Homo sapiens: one gene and its partner. The protein of the gene in region 1 purifies or fractionates together with the protein of each later gene. This does not show direct contact. Each region holds a gene or a part of one and is shown in the gene's direction. Other genes may lie near its edges.

Region 1 (5,222 bases):
ATTAAATAGCAGTACTTTTACATGTTGGGTGATTGTGGGAATTGTTAACCTTAAGGAGCAGAATAACACACTTTTAGCTAAGTCTTGATGAACTATAGTGGAGTTTTCAAATTAAATCATTCAAGGAGTCACATGAGGTTTACTTGTGATTTTCCAGACATTGAAAAGAAAATCTTTTTTCATAACAGATACTTGTTGCTTTGAGGAATCTGCATTTTAAGAATATTGTGCACTGTGATTTAAAGCCAGAAAATGTGCTGCTTGCATCAGCAGAGCCATTTCCTCAGGTGAGATATTCTCCAGAACCTTTTAAATGATTCTGGCAACATTTTCAAAGCACCCACATAATAAAAGGCAGTGTACTAAGTACTGTTGGTTAAAAATGCATACCACCTTACAAAAATAGTTTTTAGCCTGTAACTACCAGTGAGGATTAATAACTAAATGAATTCAGATGTTATTAGTTATACTGTTTATATTCAAGATTTTTTAAGATTTAACTGCACATAGATTCTGCAATTCACCTCTCCCCAGGGGCTGGGAACGAAGTGAGCAAGTATCAACCTTGGTTGGTGCATGGTACTTAGGATAAATACCTCATAAATAAAACAAATGGGGTGTTACTGGAAATGGGAGATAGATTTTGGTTGAGGCAGGCAGCCACCTCCTTTTTCTATGTAGAGTATTGTATTCAAACAACCTACATAAAATAACATTTCTCATCACCACACATACACACAATGGCATCGTGCTTCTGTGTCCTGGCTACATGTAGCACTCTCTGATTTTTCTTAATTCAGTTGAGTTTTTTTTTTTTCCAAGTGTTCATCTTGATCCACTAAATTTATTGCATGACCTATGAAATGGATCATAACCCAAATTCTGAAACAACCATCCTGAGAAATAAGTGGTGGTGGTGGTACCCTGCAGCCATTTTCCATAATTGGCAAGGATGATTCCTCCGATCAGCTCAAATATCTGTTGCCAAACTATTGTTTATATACATTTGAAACATGTACATTTAGACAAATGGCAAGACTAAGGACAACAGATAGGTGTTTTCACTTGGTAAATATAACTCAAATTGTCTTTTCAAATAAAAAGATATATTAAAAATCGTTCAGCTTTTAAAGTAGTAATCATATTCTTTTTATGTTTATGTGGTTAAAAGTGATTCCCTATCATTTTGAGGTCGAAAGGGTTGCCTGATAGTTGGTGCAATGTTTTAAATAAACTGCTTCCATATATTATCTCATTTGATCTTCAAAATAGTAGACAAAAGATGCACACTCCTACTGGTAACATTAAAACTCCCACTTTCTGACCTCTATTTTAGTGATCCACAGTGTTCCAATGAGAAGCAAAGGGAAAATAATGTGATTTACTTGATACGCTTTTTATGCTCAAGTGTTAGCCATGGCTCCACTTCTTTAATCAGTTGCCAAACTTCCAAGTCATCTTTACCTTATCAAGATGTTAGCTGAAATCTGGCATTTAACAACAAAAAAAGAGTTTGTATTTCTTCAGGCTCAGTATTCGTACTCTTCAAAGACACTGAAATCGAGAAGCAGCCAGATTCAGTAATGATTTTGAGCAAATATCATTCATAAAAATATGTGTCAGAGTCCACCATCCCAGAAATAGCAGCATTTGATAACTTCACTTCGTTTTCTAGGCACTGTTTGTACCACTGTTTTCTACAGCTTAAATCTTTTTCCTCTCAATTTATATTAATGCTTTTGCTAAAGACATTTTTTAAGTCAGAGCATTTCCTCCAGAAAGTACCTGGCATTTGCTTGTTCAGCATGGATGTGGTCATTAATCCCCCAGATTTGAGCCTCTAGAAAAATCTGGGCAGCAAGATAAGTGTTCTGAGTTCTGCCAAGCTCATCAACTTCTAGAACTCTCTTTTGAGAGGATGTGGTAGTGACTATGGCTCCCTTTACATATAACTGTTTTCAAATCTAAACATCTAACTAGAAATAATTTGTTCCACAGTGATAGAAAAGTGTTGCTGTTACTCACTGGGGCAGTCTCCAGCATTATTCCACTGGTGTCCCCATTTAAAATTACCTTTAATACACCTCAGTTTTATTTACTTGCCAGTTTATAACATCCTTAGGAAAAGAGATTCTAGGATTAAGCAAAACAAGGGATGTTTTTAAATACTGTAACTTTTTTTTTTTTTTTTTTTTTTTCTTTTGAGACAGAGTCTTCACTCTGTCGCCCAGGCTGGATTGCAGCGGCGTAATCTCGACTCACTGCAAGCTCTGCCTCCTGGGTTCACGCCATTCTCCTGCTTCAGCCTCCCAAGTAGCTGGGACTACAGGCACCCGCCACCACGCCAGGCTAATTTTTTTGTATCTTCAGTAGAGACGGGGTTTCACCGCATTAGCCAGGATGGTCTCAATCTCCTGACCTCGTGATCCGCCCGCCTCGGCCTCCCAAAGTGCTGGGATTACAGGTGTGAGCCACCACACCTGGCTAATACTGTAACTTATTTTTCCTTCAGCAAACATTGAGTACCTTTATGTGTCCAGGCACTGTGAGGCCACTAAGGATTCAGAAATGAAACAATTCCTGCTCACAGATGATGGAAGAGTGATCTTACAAGACAAATGATAGAAAGCAGCATACTCTATTTCATAAGAAATCAGAACACTTATAACACCAGTCTGGTATTTGGTATTCTGGAAGCTAGAACTTTTGAAATATGTACTAGGAAAGCTCTTCATACTGTGTCAGTCAGGATCACAGGGCTATAAATGTGTCTGCCTTTTGAGAAAAGGATATTTTACAATTTCCTTATCTGTGATTAATATTCATAATCAGTAGAGCTGGCAAGTATGTTGAAATGATACATACAGTGTTATATTTAGGGACAGGTAGTTACATATATAACACTATAATACAAAATTAACATCATCCTTCAATTTCCAGGTGAAGCTGTGTGACTTTGGATTTGCACGCATCATTGGTGAAAAGTCATTCAGGAGATCTGTGGTAGGAACTCCAGCATACTTAGCCCCTGAAGTTCTCCGGAGCAAAGGTTACAACCGTTCCCTAGATATGTGGTCAGTGGGAGTTATCATCTATGTGAGCCTCAGTGGCACATTTCCTTTTAATGAGGATGAAGATATAAATGACCAAATCCAAAATGCTGCATTTATGTACCCACCAAATCCATGGAGAGAAATTTCTGGTGAAGGTAAAAAAAAAAAAAAAAAAAAAAAAAAAAAAATTTTGGCTATGTGTTTTAAGCCTAAACATCTTTCTCATCCCAAATCAGTCTGTCTCTTGCAACTTATCTTTTTAGTACATCTCCCATTCATCTTCCAAATTCAACTAGTTACCAGTTTTTTGAGCACTCTTCTTTTTATACTTTTATCTGTGTCTTCTGTATAGTTCCCAGGCATAGCACTTACATAGGCCCCAGTGGCCTCATTGTCAAACCACTAAAATATCTTTTTAACTGTCTTACCTGTTAAACTCTTTTCTGGTCCTTCCTAGTCACTACTGCCAAATCTATCTTCAGGAAACATTACTTTCATTTATGGTGCTCCCAAACACTTCTCTTTAACCACCTTACAGGCATAGTTATCTGTGATATGGTCCATGCTTACCTTCTAGCCTCATCTCCCACTACTCCCTACACAAACCTAGTTGTTTACTCTTCTGAACTGTTTTCTGCAATTTGCTTGGGACTGTTTTTCCCTTGTCTACAATCCTTCCTATTAAAATTCGAGGACCCCTTAATTTGTGGCTCATCTATAAAGTTCCCTGACTACTCCTCTACACTGCAGAATTTACTTAGGCTAAAAAACATTTGGGCTTTTTTATTATCTTTTTTTATTTTTATTGAGACGGGGTCTCCCTCTGTCACCCAGGCTGAAGTGTGCACAAACACAGCTCACTGCAGCCTCGACTTCCTGGGCTCAAGTGATCCTCCCACCTCAGCCTCCTGACTAGGTGGGATGATGGGTATGCACCATGGGCCACCCACACCTGGCTAATTTTTAAATTTTTTGTAGAGATGGGGTCCCACTATGTTGCCCAGGCTGGTGTCAAACTCTTGCACTCAATTGATCTTCCCAACTTGACCTCCCAAAGTGCTGGGATTACAGGCATGAGCCACTGCACCCAGCCCCATTTTTTTCTTAAGTATTCATTCTTTTCATAATTGACTTTTCTAATCTTCAGAACAAGACTGTGAGCTCCGTGAATGAATACCTAGCTCCGGTTCCTTATACCTAGAATGAACTTTATAATCACCAGACACACTGCAGTTTGTTTTCCTCTCTCCTGTGGACCTCTGCTGGGAAGCTGCATACATCTCTTTTTCCTGCCTAGTGAAGGCTTTTGAATTTGCAACTCCTGGTTCTGTACCCGTCAAGAATAAGTTGGCTGGCCCTCTTTAGTCTGCTGATACTGATAGGAAGGACAAGTACACTACTTAAAACATTATTTAACTGCCCCATAGAAGTTAATAGAACCAGTGCTGGGGAATACCCCCATCTGGATTTAACCAGCCCATGTAATAGGTAGATCTTTTTTGTTTTTCCAAAAGTACTAGGCCTAATCATAGGATTAACTAATATTCCATCAAACTGGGAAAAGTTTAAGAACAACATGTGAAGACAGTAGCAGGTTTGCTTGGTAATGAAGAAAGCTAATTGAAGAAGCTCATAAGAGATGTTTTTTGATGTTAACCAGTGTTATCTCAGACCTCCTGAGGCAGTGTGTTCTGTAGACCTCTTCTATCAGAATCACTTTGCTAGTTTGGTAGTATAGAGACAAGAAATAGAACTAGGATGGTACAAGTCTTTCCATTTGGTTCGTGTCTGGGTCTAGCCTTTTGTTACCAATATTTCAAATGTACCATTATATAGGGCTGTAGTTAGTATGTAGTTATTGGTTGCCTTGGTTTTGCAATTGATCATTCTCCAAATAAGTGAATAAAATATATATACCAAGAACTCACCATGTACACTAAAACACCCTGAAACCTATTTGTTAAAAGTGTAAACTTTTGGTAGTTAAGCTACCACCTCAATGTGACCATATATAGAGGCAAGGCAGTGCCTTTCCAGACCAAGTCAGGGACTAGAGTGCTCTCTAGCATTGGAGCGGGGTGGGGAGGATCAGAGAGTCTGTTTCATTCATCTTCAAATAATAATAGTTAATACTTAGCACTTATGTGCTAAGCACTGTTCTAAGCCCTT
Region 2 (3,840 bases), on another chromosome or scaffold:
CTCCATCAGCTTCCTCACACCCTTGCGCAACTTCCTGGAGGGGGACTGGAAGACCATCTCGGTGAGGGCCCTGGGACTATTCCGCTTCCTGGTAACCATGGCAGTTCCCTCCTCAGAGCCTTTGAGTACAGGCTCTCTTCCAGTGCTGGGGCTACAAAACTCCTGAGGCCTCCCCAGAGAGGGCTCCTTTGGACTGAGTGACCTCCTATCTCTGGGCCTCAGTTTCCCTATCTTGACTTGATCGTCCCCGGCACCAATCTTGCCATGCATGGCTCAGGGTCTCCCAGGGCAGCCCAGGGTCTCACTGTCCCCATGCCCTGCCCTGTAGAAGGAGAGGCGGCTCCTCCAAAACCGGCGTCTGGACTTGGATGCCTGCAAAGCGAGGCTGAAGAAGGCCAAGGCTGCAGAAGCCAAAGCCACGGTAGGTGTCCCCGCTCCCCGCTGGCCTCCTGGCCCAGGCTCTGGCTGGAGCCAAGGGGTGGTGGCATGAAGGGACCTGGTATTTGGCATGACCTCTCTCCCCTCTCCCTGGCTGGAGATGCCTGGCTGGGGGCTGCTGGGCTGAGCCTCTCTGTCCCTGCCCTCAAGGGAGCCTTGGTGGCCCCCGAGCTCTGGTTCCCAGGGAGATATCTACGGTGTGGGCGGACCAGCAGTGCCCCCAGCTGGGTGCACCACCCCGCCAGGCAGCTGGAGTCTCCTGCATGCCCTGCCCTGCCCTCCTAGATGCTCGGCTCTGTCCCCGGCTCTGCCCGGGCATGGCACCTTCTTACTAACTCTACTACTTGCTGCTTGAACGTCAGGCCGAGGGTCCCTGTGCTCAGGCGCCCCCACGATGGTGTGGAAAACCTGGGAGCTGGACCGCCCGCTTGCTCAGGGCCGTGTCCGAGGGGTCCCATGAGATTGGATAGGGCCTGGGCCATCTGGCGCCCCCTTCACTCCCAGCTCACTGAGGCCTGTTCAGCCTGGCTGGGTCAATGGGACGCAGCCTGGGACAGTGTGCCCAGGGCGAGGCCAGGATTGGAGGAGCTGGGCCCAAGGGTGAACACCCTCCTGGCACAAGAGGTTGCTCAGGGCTGCCAGGCCTAAAGGCTGCCTCATACCTTGCAGAGGGAACTCCCAGGCCCAGGCCTACTAGGGAGATGGCTACCTGTGGCTGCCAGCTGATTAGCCGAGGGAGGCCAGGCCTAGCCTGGGCTCACAGCTGCCCATGCACCTTGCGTTCCCCTCCCATAGTGTGGCCCCAGAGCCAGCACTGCCCCTGGCGAGAACCGTCTCAGGTCACTCAAGTGTGTGGGGTCTAGATCAGAGGCAGGGGTGTAGTTGTTTCAATCTTGGGGTTGGCTAGGGTGACCTGTGCCTATTGGGATGACCTCTTCTAAGGCACCTGAACAGGACAGTCTCCCCCGTCACTTCGGGCCAGACACCGTCTCTGGAGTAACTCAGCCAGAACACACTCTCTCCATCAGCCAGGCCAGAGGAGCCTTTCCTGTCATTGCAGTGGTGTGGCCTCTCCCTCACCTGGTGGGCCTGGACAACCTCACATCCTGGGGTTGGGCCAGGCCACCTTTCCAGAGCTAGGACTTGGGCAGCCCCAGGAACAGCATTCCAGAGGACTCAAGCTCCACAGCTCTGTCCCCATAAGCACGCACACGTTAGGACTCTTCAGGAGGGCAGGCTGTGGTGCCTCCCTCCGCCCGACCGCCTGGTGTCCCCTCCCACTGGGGCCTGGGGGGCCTGCTCCTGCCTGCGCTGTGGACTCACTAACTCTTTGTTTTTGTTCCTTTCCGTCCTGCTTTGGGTAACTTGGCTCAGTGTGAGGGAGATGTGAGTATACCTGTCCCACGCGCTGTGCTGCTTCCGGTCTGCCCATCTTGCCCGTGGACCCACGGTGCCATGGCCAGCCCACGTCCTTGGGGCATTTTGCAAGCAGCTGGTCTCCCCGCCAGAGCCTCTACTGTGCAGGGCCTCTGGTTTAGGGGGGGATGCCAGGCGTTGGGGCCTGTGAGTCAGCTTTTTGCAAATGTTGGACGCCTGTCACTCTGTCTGCCCATGCATCCATCTGTCCACCTTCATTGTCGGGAGGGGCCTGGCCCTTGATGCAGGAGCAAGAGATGTGGTGTGCGGATTCTGGGATGGAAAAAGCCATCCCAGTTGGGGGTGGGCTGTGTTTGCGGGACCCTGGGGCATCTGAGTGCCACTGGTCTGGGGAGGAGGGGGCTGTGGCCCCTGGCAGGGGAGAGCCCAGCCTGTGACTTGCTCAGGCAGCCTCGGCCATCTCCTCACCGCATTTGCTCTCCTGAGCTCCAGTGCCTGCAGCCACTTGATCTTTGTCTGGACTCTCCAAGTCCCTAGGCCCCTCATCTCCAGGTGGTTGGAGTCGGGAGAAGGGGGTTTGTGTTGTGTTTGTATCCCCGTCCCTGGGGTCAGGCCTCTTGGCATCTCCTTGTGCAAGACTCTGGGGTAGCCTCCTGACCTCGACCCTGGCCCTGGCCCAGGGTGACCCCCTCCCCACATGAACTCTGTTCCCCGCCAGACGGTGCCTGACTTTCAGGAGACTAGACCTCGTAATTACATTCTCTCGGCCAGCGCCTCCGCGGTAAGCGCACCCCACCCCCACCCCACCCCTCGTCCTCCTCTCTCCCCACGTCCCACACCACTGCCTCTGACTGCACAGGAGCTAGAAGCCAGCTTGGGTAAGGCGGGGGCACTGCCATGTGATCAGGTCAGTCCTGAGACACTGGGGAGGGGCAGCAGCCCCCACCTCTGTCCACGGCCTGGCCCCGGTGCCCTGTGGCCATGGAGCTGGACTTGTTTCCCTCTGCAAAACGCTGGAGCTGGCGGCAGGGCCAGCCACACTGAGTAGTGTGGAGAACTCAGGGCGGCAGCTGTCCCATCCCCAGGGCCCCTCCACCTCCTGCTGTCTCTGAATGCCAGGCCCTGGGGAGGCCCTGAGGATAGAGGAGGAGGCCTGGCCGTGCCTTTCTGGAGTTCACAGACCCCTAAAGACAGGAGGCAGGGATGGCGTCGTAGGCCTGGAGAGCGCCTGGGGGGCGGGAGGGCCTGAGGCTGTGCTTAAGGCCCAGAGGTCCTGGAGCAGGGCATGTCTTGTCCTGAGGCTTAGGCAGGGCCCCCAGGGGAGTTGGGGCAGGAGGTGGGGAGGACAGGATCGTGGAGGCTTCGCATGTCATGGTGTCTGTTGGTTTTTAGGCTTTCTTGGGAAGTCTGGTGTTTCCTATGTAGTTTGGGGACTAGGCCACACCTCTCCCTCATGCTTGTCACCACTGCTACACCTTGTCTGCCCACTTTCTCTCCTTCCCGCCCCTGGAGGTGAGACCCTCACCTCTCTCGTGAGCATGCTGCCTCATGTCTTCCGTGCCGTCGTTCTGTGGCTGGGTGACTGTCCCTCAGGCCGCCAACCCTAGTTGGCTCTCACAGCAACTTCCAGTGCTCCTGGACGGGGACTTCCTAAGCAGCATGGGGGCCACACGGGCCGGCCACGCACACTGGCCTGGGTCCGCATTCCCTATTTCAGGCTGTTGTCTCGGGTCAGATCTCCGGAAGCGGCAGGAGCGCTGGGTCTCCTGGTCGTGGCCGGGCAGCGTCTTTCTTCTTCAGGGTCTGGATGCCACTTCCCGCCTCCTCCCTGTGCCCAGTGGAAGGAGAAACATCCTAGAGGGTGGAGACTGCCCTGTTTTTCTTTTGCCATTGAGTCCCAGTGTGACTCAAGCACGAGGCCACCTTTCTCTGCCAGAGGACAGAAAGCTTCAGTGACTGGCCCAGGGTCACACAGTTCTGCCGCCCAGCCCAGCAGCCTGAGCCAGCAGTCAGGATGGGGTGGGG

Evidence for each region.
Region 2: the proteins of PRKD3 (region 1) and SH3GLB2 purify together in Homo sapiens (affinity purification with mass spectrometry; one large-scale study listed by BioGRID and IntAct). This does not show direct contact.

Annotation. Positions count from the first base shown.
Region 1 is NC_000002.12:37,254,648-37,259,869, reverse strand, and holds part of PRKD3 (serine/threonine-protein kinase D3), read left to right. Parts: exon of another isoform or gene 1-188; coding exon 189-287; exon of another isoform or gene 288-1,554; intron 1,555-2,940; coding exon 2,941-3,208; intron 3,209-3,404; exon of another isoform or gene 3,405-5,222. UniProt on the Homo sapiens protein: Converts transient diacylglycerol (DAG) signals into prolonged physiological effects, downstream of PKC. Involved in resistance to oxidative stress.
Region 2 is NC_000009.12:129,010,992-129,014,831, reverse strand, and holds part of SH3GLB2 (endophilin-B2), read left to right. Parts: coding exon 1-61; intron 62-328; coding exon 329-421; intron 422-1,812; coding exon of another isoform or gene 1,813-1,824; intron 1,825-2,533; coding exon 2,534-2,596; intron 2,597-3,840.